2 separate regions of the Homo sapiens genome follow, and region 2 is linked to region 1. A link means that fine-mapping ties the variant in region 1 to the expression of a gene that starts in the linked region. Tissue or cell type: whole blood. Region 1 holds a variant in brackets; the other region holds the start of a gene. All regions are shown on one strand. Distances are between the middles of the regions.

Region 1 (5,147 bases):
TGTAAGGTCCCGGGAGGGACCTGGCCAGCTTGGGCAGCAGGGTGGGGTGGGGCCATCATGGGAGGCTTTCCAGGTGCCTGCAAGCTTCACCCAAAGTTTATTGGCCTGCAGAGCCCAAGGGAGCTACTAACTGCATTGGGTTAATGAGGGGGTTTTCTGTGATTAGAAAGTGGCTTTAATGGCCTTCATATTCTAGAAAACTTGAAGACATGATTGCCCTGGCTCCTTTTTATTAGGTGGGGTCATCCCACCCAGGGTGAGTCTATTCGACATGGAGTATAAAAATAGTCCATCTTAAACTGAAGTGGGAATGTGGCCACTACCACCATCCAGAGGTTTCTGGTCTGGCCATCTACTGGATCTCTATGGTTTATTTCTTCCTTCTTTCCTTCTTCTAGCTTTGCCCTCCATTTAGTCAACCAGTAGGTATTTGCATCTACAGAAGGGCAGCCACTGTGTTAGACGTGGGCATATGGTGGTGAGCAAAGACACTGGGTGAGGGGAGAGCAAGCAGGCCCACCCAGAACAGAACTCGTGACTGCCAAGTGGGACATGCTTCCTGGATGGGGAGCCCAGTCTTGCAAGAGAAAACCCCAGAAGACCCTGAGCTGGGCTGGTGCTCAGAGAGGCCTCCCTGGGGAGGTGATGCCTGAGGAGCTGAGGTCAGGAGCAGGGGGAAGCTCTGTCTTCACTGATTGATTTTTCTGAGAAGTGAGTTCCCCATTTCTCCTGGAGGGTGACAGGCAGGAATTAGCAGTGTCATGGGAATGAGACATGTCAGCTCTGCTGCTGCCAGTGAAGGCCTTGTTGGACAGCCACTCTGCAGCGCTAAGCTCCCAGACCTACCTGGGGCTTCCTTTGGATCCCTCCACCCGGCCTAGATGTGGAAGACTCCCCAGGGTGCGGTGGTGCGCAGTGGGCCACCATGAGAGGGCCAAGTGTGATGAGTGGAGTGCTGTGACTGGTGGTGCCTTGGCGTGCACCATGGAGGAGACCCCAGAGGACTGCATCACTGCCATCACAGTTGGAGGGCCCTGCTTTTAAGGCTGGGCTCAGACACTCAGACACACAGCACTTCTGCCAAATCTGGCATTGAAGCTCTCCTTCCCAAATGCCTCTTCCTCAGCCTCCAGGATAAGGACACCTGTTGTGTGCTGCCTCCCACCCACCCCACAGGCCCCTCCAGCTCTGGGCAGGGCAGAAACACAGAGCCAATCCAAGAGCTGGACTCCTGGGGGGCTCAGCTCTGGAGTCCAGTTAGCTCAGGGGAGTGTCTTGCCTAGGAGTCCCAGGAAGTAGGGTGACATTCCGGGCTATGGTCAGGGCTACTGTGAATTGTGAAAGCAGATCAACCTTTTCAATCCTTTAATTGTAAGTTTATTTTTTCTGGTTATAAAATATTACAATAAATAAATAAAAATAGGGCTGCAGTGAGCCATGGTCACACCATTGCACTCTAGCCTGGGTGACAGAGCAAGACCCTGTCTCTAAAAAAATCAGAAAGTAAAAATAAAATCATTCACAACTTCATCACTCAGAGATTATGTGATGATGATCTCTGAGTGACGAAGTTGTGAATGATTTTATTTATTTTATTTATTATGATCTCTGAGCGATGAAATTGTGTTGTTATTAACTTTATGAGCAGAACTATTTTTGTGATTAGGAAAAAATAAACTTATAAATAAAGAATGAAAATTTGACAAACTTAGAAGGCTATGCAACCATTTCATTTTGTTTTGTTTAACTTGAGAAGACCCTCATCTTGGTAAACCTTCCTAGCACCAATTCCTAAGATTAAGATCTTGATGGTTATGTAGTCTACTAAATGTGTCAATTGTAAGGATTAAGTAAATCTCAGTACATATAACATTGCCTGGCATATAGTTAGCAGTAACTAAGTGTTAGCTGTTATTATTATTCAAAATCCCAGGGACAGTTGGTATATTTTCTTAAATAATGAAACACTCATTTAAATAATGGCTATGTAATATTCCACCAAGTATGTTAGCCTCCATTTAACCAGTTTCTCAGTGTTTATATTTGAGTTATTTCCAAATCCTTTGCTATTATAGACAATGTGGGATTGAAAAATCTTTGTATCTATAAATGCCTATATTTCTGAGTATATCTTTAATATTAATGGTAACTAATTTTTCTGGAGTTACTGTGTGACAAGCATGTTTATGAGCTCTTAAACTGTATTACTCATTTAGTCTTCATGATAAACCTATAGGGTATAATTTTTACCCAACTTATGGATGAAAACATGTAAATAGCATAGTATTGAGGGAAACGTGCTTTAGGGTAGACAGATCTTGGAGGCCATCTGGAATAGTGGTTACAAGGAATTAAATTGCCTAGGTTTAAGTCTTAGCCGCTGTTGATTGGACAAATTTAACCTTTCTGCTTTCATTTATAAAAGAGGGGAAATTCTAGTATCTAGCTTATTGAAGTTTGTGAGGAATATATGAGGTAATCACTGTGAAGTGTTTAGAAAGGAGCCTGGCACATAATAAGGCTTGGTAAGTTTTTGCTGCTGTAGTCACTGTTTTTAGATTTCTAGAAGGGTAGTGAAAAGGTCAAAAACAAAGAGCATGTATATGCA[T/G]GTTTTTATCTTGGTGACCTTATCTATAAGTATACATTTTTTACTCTATTAGAAAAATTAATTGATTAAAATAATAAGTGAATTATTAGTGTATTATCTAGAGAAATGAATTATTTATTGAAAATCTTTGTTGTGCCAGGCACTGAGTACAGTGCTAGTGGGATTATGGGAACAGATTTGAACTCCATTATCTGGAAGAAACATATCCCATAGAAACAGGTTAAATGCATTTCCTGAGTCTGGCCATGTTAATTGCTGGGTTGAGTGACTATAGCCACAAAGAAGGGGTGGTGAGGTCATATCCAGGACGCAGCATGGGTCTCATCAGAGGACACAGAGATGTCCAGGGGGCATGACCTGGGTTGGAACTTGTTCCCAGGTCAACAGGCCAAGAGCATGTCCAGTTTTCTAAACCCTGTGTTTACATGGCAGAAGCTTTGAGTGATCCACAATTGGTTAATCACAAGGATGTTTACATGAAGCCAGTGAAATGAGAACCTCTGAGGGTCAGAGGCCCAGGAGACAGCTATTGTGCTATTGATTTGTTTCTTAACTTCAGAAAGGGGAAGCTGATGCCATGAGCTTGGATGCAGGATTCATCTACATAGCAGGGAAATGTGGTCTGGTGCCTGTCCTGGCAGAGAACTACAGTAAGTGGAGGGGAGTGTCCGTCTCCATTTTTTCTGTCCACAGTTCCCCTGGGCTGTGGGCATAGAAAGATGAGGAAATAACTTAGTTTAGTGTTGAGATAATAACTATTGTTGGAATGTATGGAGCTAGTAGAAAAAAAAAGTCTCCCTCTCCTGGAGCCAGAAACAATTAAGATATAGACAAAGGAATCAGGCAGAAAGAGATCAAAATAACACCTTTACTTCTGAGATTGTGATACTGGAGTGTGTGATGTAGAGCTGGCACGGGGCTGCAAGTCACCCTTACCTTAAAGTTGCCCACTAGTTCAGGAAAATGGGTCTGATGGCTTATGCCAAGACTAAGGGCAAAGGGAAACACATTTTATCATAGGTGAGAAGACCCAAACAACTCTCTCCCCATTGTCTTCAAGAAAGAAAGAGGGGCTGAGCCACATGTGCTCATGATCCTTCACCCAGATGCACTGGGTGGTTGAGAAGGTGGGGCTGCAAGGTCATGTTCTTTAGTGGGGATCCATCCACATGGAAAAATGAAGCTGGTGTAAAAGAGGGTTTCCCTAATATCATTGATTACACCTCATCTGCTACATTATCTTTCAAAACAAAACGACTCTGTGAGGTAAATAGTGGTATCTCCATTTTATAGCTGTAAAAACTGAGGCTTAGAAAAGATAAGTGATGGGTCGGGCGTGGTGGCTCACACCTGTAATCCCAGCACTTTGGGACACTGAGGTGGGTGGATCACGTGAGGTCAGGAGTTCGAGACCAGCCTGGCCAACATGGCGAAACCCTGTCTCTACTAAAAATACAAAAATTAGCAGGGCATGGCAGCAGGTGCCTGTAATCCCAGCTACAGGGAGGCTGAGGCAGGAGAATCGCTTGAACCTGGGAGGCAGAGGTTGCAGTGAGCTGAGATCGTGCCATTGCACTCCAGCCTGGGCAACAACAGCAAAACTCCATCTCAAAAAAAAAAAAAAAGGATAAATGATGTTTCCATTGTAGAATAAAGACTGAATCCAGATCTTTCTGACTCCCTGGACTGGGTTCTTTCCCTCCCGTATAGCAAAAATAATGATTGCCTACCACAGTCTAAGACTCTGAAGGGAAGAAAGATATCAGGATGACTTATTACACAGCTAATGCAAAGGGATATGACCTCTCCCTCTCTTTCCCTTCAATGAGCACCTCCACTTTCTTTGCCTGCATCTGCTAGAGTACTGGGGAGATTTTGGGATGGAACCTATCTTCAAATAGGAAAGAGCAGAAGAGGGTAAAATGGGCTTGCAGAACCTTAACCCACTGATACCCAATGATACCTTGCTCATATTATTATTGACTATTGAGATTGAGAAGCTCCTGACTTTGGATGGAGTAATGTGAGGGTTTAATGTCATGTACCTTGATTGTTTTTCTTTTTCTTTTTAGAGCAGTTTAGGTCTAAGTGTGTGAATTTACCCATGGAAGGTGAGTTAGAATCAGTAATACTGGCTCAAAGGTAAAGGCCCATTGTTGGGGAGAGGAAAGCTTAAAAACAAATAAAAATGACTGGAGGTGGAAAAAAATTCACAGTTAATTGTTAAGATGCAAACCTATCCTGGGGTGTAATAATACTATTTGCAGGGCACTTTATAGTTGGCAAAGGACTCCTGTTTGCACTATTCCTGTTCCCTCTTCTCAGCAACCCTGGAGTATGTGGGCATTGTTGTCTCATGTTATGGAGCTGGAGTCTGAGACTCAGGGACTGAGTGACTTGCCCAGGGCCACACTGCCAGGAGGCGGCTGCACCTGGGTTTCAGAAGAGGAGGAATGGCTGGAAACCCCAGGCCCTTCCTGGCACCACACTGCGCCTGAGCACATGCTGCCTGCCCATCTCTGTGTGAAGGTCCACACTG
Region 2 (5,147 bases), 130 kb before region 1:
ACTGAAACTTATTTATATCTAGATCTTCTCTTCTAGATTATAAGGGAATTGAATGCAGGAATCACAAATTACTCACTTTTGAATAAAGCACTTTGCCCGAAATATAGCAAAATAAGTGCTTCATAGATGAGGAAAGAAAGAGAGGGAGAGGGCCGGGCATGGTGGCTCACACCTGTAATTCCAGCACTTTGGGAGGCTGAGGTGGGTGGATCACGAGGGTCAGGAGTTTGAGACCAGCCTGGCCAACATGGTGAAACCCCGTCTCTACTAAAAATACAAAAATTAGCTGGGTGTGGTGGCGGGTGCCTGTAATCCCAGCTACTCAGGAGGCTAAGGCAGGAGAATCGCTTGATCCTGGGAGGCAGAGGTTGCAGCGAGCTGACATGCCATTGCACTCCAGCCTGGTGACAAGAGCAAGACTTTGCCTCAAAAAATAAGTAAGTAAATAAATAAATAAATAAATGAAAGAGAGGGAGGGAGGAAGGAAGAAAGAGGGGGGAGGAAGAAAAGAAGGAAAGAAAAGAGGAAGGGAGAAAAAAGAAGGAAAGAAAAAAAAGAAAGAAAATAAATTTGATTAGCGATGGTAAGGGAGGGTGATGGTGATGGGCAGTACTGAACCTGGCCTGCATCACAGGAAGATATATGTTGTCATAGAAGGAAGTCACCTTGGGAGCTGTTCATGTTTGGGGAATAGTATATGTATAAGCTCAAGCTACTTGCTGGCCAAGGCTAGGTCCTTGATTTCTTTTGACATTCAGAAGTTAGACTTTTTTTTTTTTTTTGAGACGGAGTTTCACTGTTGTTGCCCAGGCTGGATTGCAATGAGGCGATCTCGGCTTACTGCAACCTCCGCACCCCCGGGTTCAAGCAATTCTCCAGCCTCAACCTGTAGCTGGGATTACAGGCGTTAGCCACTACGCCCGGCTAATTTTCGTGTTTTTAGTAGAGACGGGGTTTCATTATTTTGGTGAGGCTGGTCTCGAACTCCTGACCTCAGGTGATGCGCCTGCCTCGGCCTCCTGAAGTGCTGGGATTACAGGCGTGAGCCACCGCGCCCAGCCAGAAGTTAATTCTTTAATAGCAGTGTAAGTAGGGGGTAGGAAAAGAGAAACTTTAATGGGGTAACTGTAAAGGAAAAGACGAAGAAGTCTCTCCATTTACTGGCTGGATTCTATCTACCCCATATGGCTACCAACATTTGTCTGAGTCATTTCCTCAATGGTTGTGACAGCTCCCTCTTCTGCTTTTAGAAGGAGGAAGTAGAAAGTTTAAGAGCTTACTTTAGACCACCTTTTGCATATAGAATTCATTTCATTTTCAAGGCCCCAAGGGTATTTAAATGGGCTTTAAACCCATTTAAACCTGGCTTTCGCCTGGGCATTTTGGTCTCCACCCCTATGATAAGACAGTCCCCTCCTTTTATCAGGGATAGAAGCTAAGGATAAACTGTATCATCATCTAGACTCAAGTCAGGGCGTTAAGCAATGTGCTGAGCAGCTAATAATGTTGACTCTCTTCCCTCCATCCCCCTATCTTGTAAGAAATAGTATACCCACTTTACAGATTAGGGACTTGACGATAGGATTTATTGAACTTGACCTTGGTAAACATAATCCAGAGGGTGGAGTTCAGACAAAATCCCTTTCTACCTACCAACCAGCCTATGAAAGATCTTTTAGTAAATGGGACCTAAACTTCAGGCTCACTGCTCCTCTCACTTTCACAATCAACCGGTAAAGAAGAAAAGTAATGGTTGCCACTCCAGAGGGGGTGGAAGTACAGAAGCGATCAGAGGAGAGGAACAATCTTTAACACAGTTGGCTTAACGCAGTGCCTGTCCGTTTCGCGACAGTTCAAACGACTACTATGGGGCCACGGTTTGTTCTGGGCCAGGAAACACACGTGCATCCTGCGCATGCGTCCAAAAGGAACCCACTGCCCCTCCTGCTGGACCTCTTTAGCCAAGTCATCAACCAGCCCTCAACATGCCCGCCCTCAAGACTAAACCCTCGGCCAATCGGGAAACCGGAGTCGCCCGGCACGTCACTTATTTTGCATATGCCCTCCTCTCCCCGCCCCCATGCTTGGACTCCGCCCCGTCTGGGTCAGGGATTGTCACCTAAGAGCTTCGTCCTGGCACCTGATTGGCTCTCTTTCCAGCTCCGCCTCCATCTCCTCCCGCCGCCCGCCCCTTGGCGATCCCACAGCGGCAGGCAGAGCAAAATACGCAGGCGCAGGCGCTTCCTCTCTCTTCTAGCGGCCCGCCCTCCCTCCTCCCTCTCCCTCCCCTCCCCACTCCCTTCCCCTCCTCTCCAGGCCTGCGCGCGCGCCTCTTCCTCCGGCACGCGCCGCTGCTAGCCGAGCACTCTCGCCAGAACCTCTGGCTCGCGCGTGCCTTTTCCCCTCAGGTTGTGGGGAGAGCGGAATCCTGCTCCGCCGTCGCAGCAGCAGCGGCAGCCCCGGCAGCCTCGGGCGACAGCGGCGGCGCGCGAGCCCCCGGGCGGACCGTACCACCGCTCGCCAGCACGCAGGGGGAGCCGCCCGTCTCGCCGCGCACGCCTCGGCGACCCCGCGGGGCTGAGGCGTCGCCGCGCCCGGCAGCGTGAGCGCAGAGCCGGCCTCGACCCCGAGCTCGGAGCCCCGCGGGCCGCGCCCGCCGCCGGCCCCACCCATCCGGGTCGAGGAGGCCGAGGCCATGGCTGAGACGGAGGAGCGGAGCCTGGACAACTTCTTTGCCAAGAGGGACAAGAAGAAGAAGAAGGAGCGGAGCAACCGGGCGGCGAGTGCCGCGGGCGCAGCGGGCAGCGCCGGCGGAAGCAGTGGAGCCGCGGGTGCGGCGGGCGGCGGGGCGGGCGCGGGGACCCGGCCGGGTGACGGCGGGACCGCCAGCGCGGGGGCTGCGGGCCCAGGGGCCGCCACCAAGGCTGTGACGAAGGTGAGGGGCCGGGAGGCCGGCACTCGGGGCCCGGGCCGCGCGCCGGCGCCCCATGTGCCCGCCCCCGCCTGCCGGGGAAGCGTCCGGGAGGGGCCGCGGAGGCCGGGCGGACGGGCGCGGGCCGCCACGTGACGCAGGCTCTCCACCTCGGGCTGGGCTCGCCAGGGCCGGGACCCCTTCCGATATCCGCGGTGGAGCCGCCCTTCCCACCCCGCGTCGCTCGGCGTTAGCCAAGGCCCGGGCGGCGCCACCCTCCGGGGGCACTAGGTCTGGGGCCGCAGTGCCCAGCACAGAGCAGCGTTTATCGGGTGACGTCTAGGCTGAGTAATTCCGTGTGCTGACCTCAGCCCAGTAGTTTGAGCTGAATTTTCGCTTTCAGCAGCCGCATTTGTAGCAGCTCTTTTGTGATGACTTAGTCTCTAAGCCCGTGAAAGAAAAAGAAAACTCTCGGTGGCAAGGTTGAAGTAGAAATGTAGTTGTGAAATTCCTATTGACTTCTTCCTTCGGCTTTTCTTAGTTGCTTAAAGTAACAGCTCCCATGCAGGAACCCAGCGGAAGTATAGTGTTAGCCTACGAGCATGTTTGTCCTCCATTTAGCCTAGTTTGCCCCAGAACGAAGCAAGGGCTTTGACCAGAAGACAAGTACATACTTAGTTTAGGTTCCAGCCACTTGATCCACTTTTCGTAGTGTGTTATTTGCTTAGTTATATGTCTACAAATAGCTTTAATTGATCAAATGGCGTTTGTTTTACAGGACGAAGATGAATGGAAAGAATTGGAGCAAAAAGAGGTTGATTACAGCGGCCTCAGGGTTCAGGCAATGCAAATAAGGTATAGTCTGGTTACAAATGTGTTTAGATAACCTTTGGGATAGATATTGGATACAAGTTAGGTTTTCCTTTGGCCCCAAAGCAGCATCATAGTAGCCTTGTGCTCTAGATATGCTTATTAGGACTCAAATGGGTTCTGTCTACTCTTTCTCACTCCATGGAGGCAGCCCTTCCGTGTGCTCATGAAATTAGCTGCTGACTCTAAAATCCTGTGAGAGCTTGCCTACTTCCAGTTCTGGTTAGGACTTTTCATTTGAGACAGCTAAAGTGGATTTTGTCGCTTCAAAATTTTTACTTTTAACATCGGTGATTGTACTTAGTTTTGGTTTCAAAAGTAATGTGGATGTTTTTCACATCCTCTCCAATAAGCAAGTGAATATATGTTTTTGTAATTGAAGTATATCATACTTACAGAGAGATAGAGGTTTTATGTGTTCACACAGTGCAACCAACCTGTGCAATAAGCACCAGGTCAAGAAACTGAGTATTACTGATACAGAACAAGGTTCCCCTCCTAACACATACTCACTGCATTCACCTTCAACATAACCACTATTCTAACACCATAATTTTTTCTAAAACTTCATAGGAATGGAATTATATTTGTAAACATGTTATTTTTTAAAGTTCAAAAAAATAGTAATTTTTAAAAATTGGGTAGTTTAGAAGATTTGAAATTAACATTTTGTCAAGTCCAGTCTATGGCAGTCAACTTTAAGGTTGATGTTAAGTAAGTGCTATATTTTGGAGGGTTCATAAAGTAGGAAAAAACAAATGAAGATATGGTTCTGCTGTAAGATGAAAAAATCCTTTGCTCCCGGTTTAAAGAAATAAAGGATCTTGATAAACTGTCTCCAGTTTGAAGGTTGCATTTTATAGGCAATGCCAGTGAGTGCGAGGCACAGTGGAGGAAATACTTTCCTTAACTGAAAACTGTCTTTTGACTTCTCTGGATGTTAGTATCTATAGCTTTAGATAACTTACTCAAAAAGCAGGGTTAATATTATTGACATTTGTTGAACACCTACCACAGCTAGGCATTAATGTCCTACTGTGAAAACATCATTTTGTGAGCTTAACCAAAGTGAAACCCCCAGATTGATAATGGGAAACTTTCAGGAACGATGGCTTCTCCACTCTTGAGATTTCTTTGTAGTGGTGTTGAGTAGAAGTGATTAGACTTGAGTTTGATTCCCAACCACTTGTTGGCTTCCTTAATGTGTCTTTCTCTTTTCTGTCTCCTGGGGCTTGACCTGTAAATAATGGGGAGGAGGGAATGTGAGGTTCTTACCATTTGGTGTTGTGGAACTGCCTGTGTGTGTGGCTCCGGTTCTGTTGTAAAGTTTGGCTCTTCTTAAGTCTTTTCTTTCCTAAGTGACTGC

The links. PIP is the estimated chance that this variant, and not a neighbour inherited with it, causes the effect.
Region 2: it holds the start of CDV3, and the variant in region 1 is fine-mapped to the expression of CDV3 in whole blood (TOPMed, PIP above 0.99).

What each region holds. Positions count from the first base shown.
Region 1 is chr3:133,701,057-133,706,203 of GRCh38, forward strand. It overlaps a transcript of TF not described here and the pseudogene INHCAP. Among named protein-coding and RNA genes, the nearest start is that of TOPBP1, 42 kb to the left of the region's middle. The variant T/G (reference allele first, on the strand shown) is at 2,609.
Region 2 is chr3:133,571,350-133,576,496 of GRCh38, forward strand. CDV3 (CDV3 homolog) reads left to right here and starts at 2,337. Exons shown (of 5, transcript NM_017548.5): 1 at 2,337-2,935; 2 at 3,690-3,766. The coding sequence starts at 2,696. RefSeq lists enhancers at 1,326-1,565, 1,508-2,009, 1,666-1,835 and silencers at 2,216-2,755, 2,776-2,885, 2,916-3,305.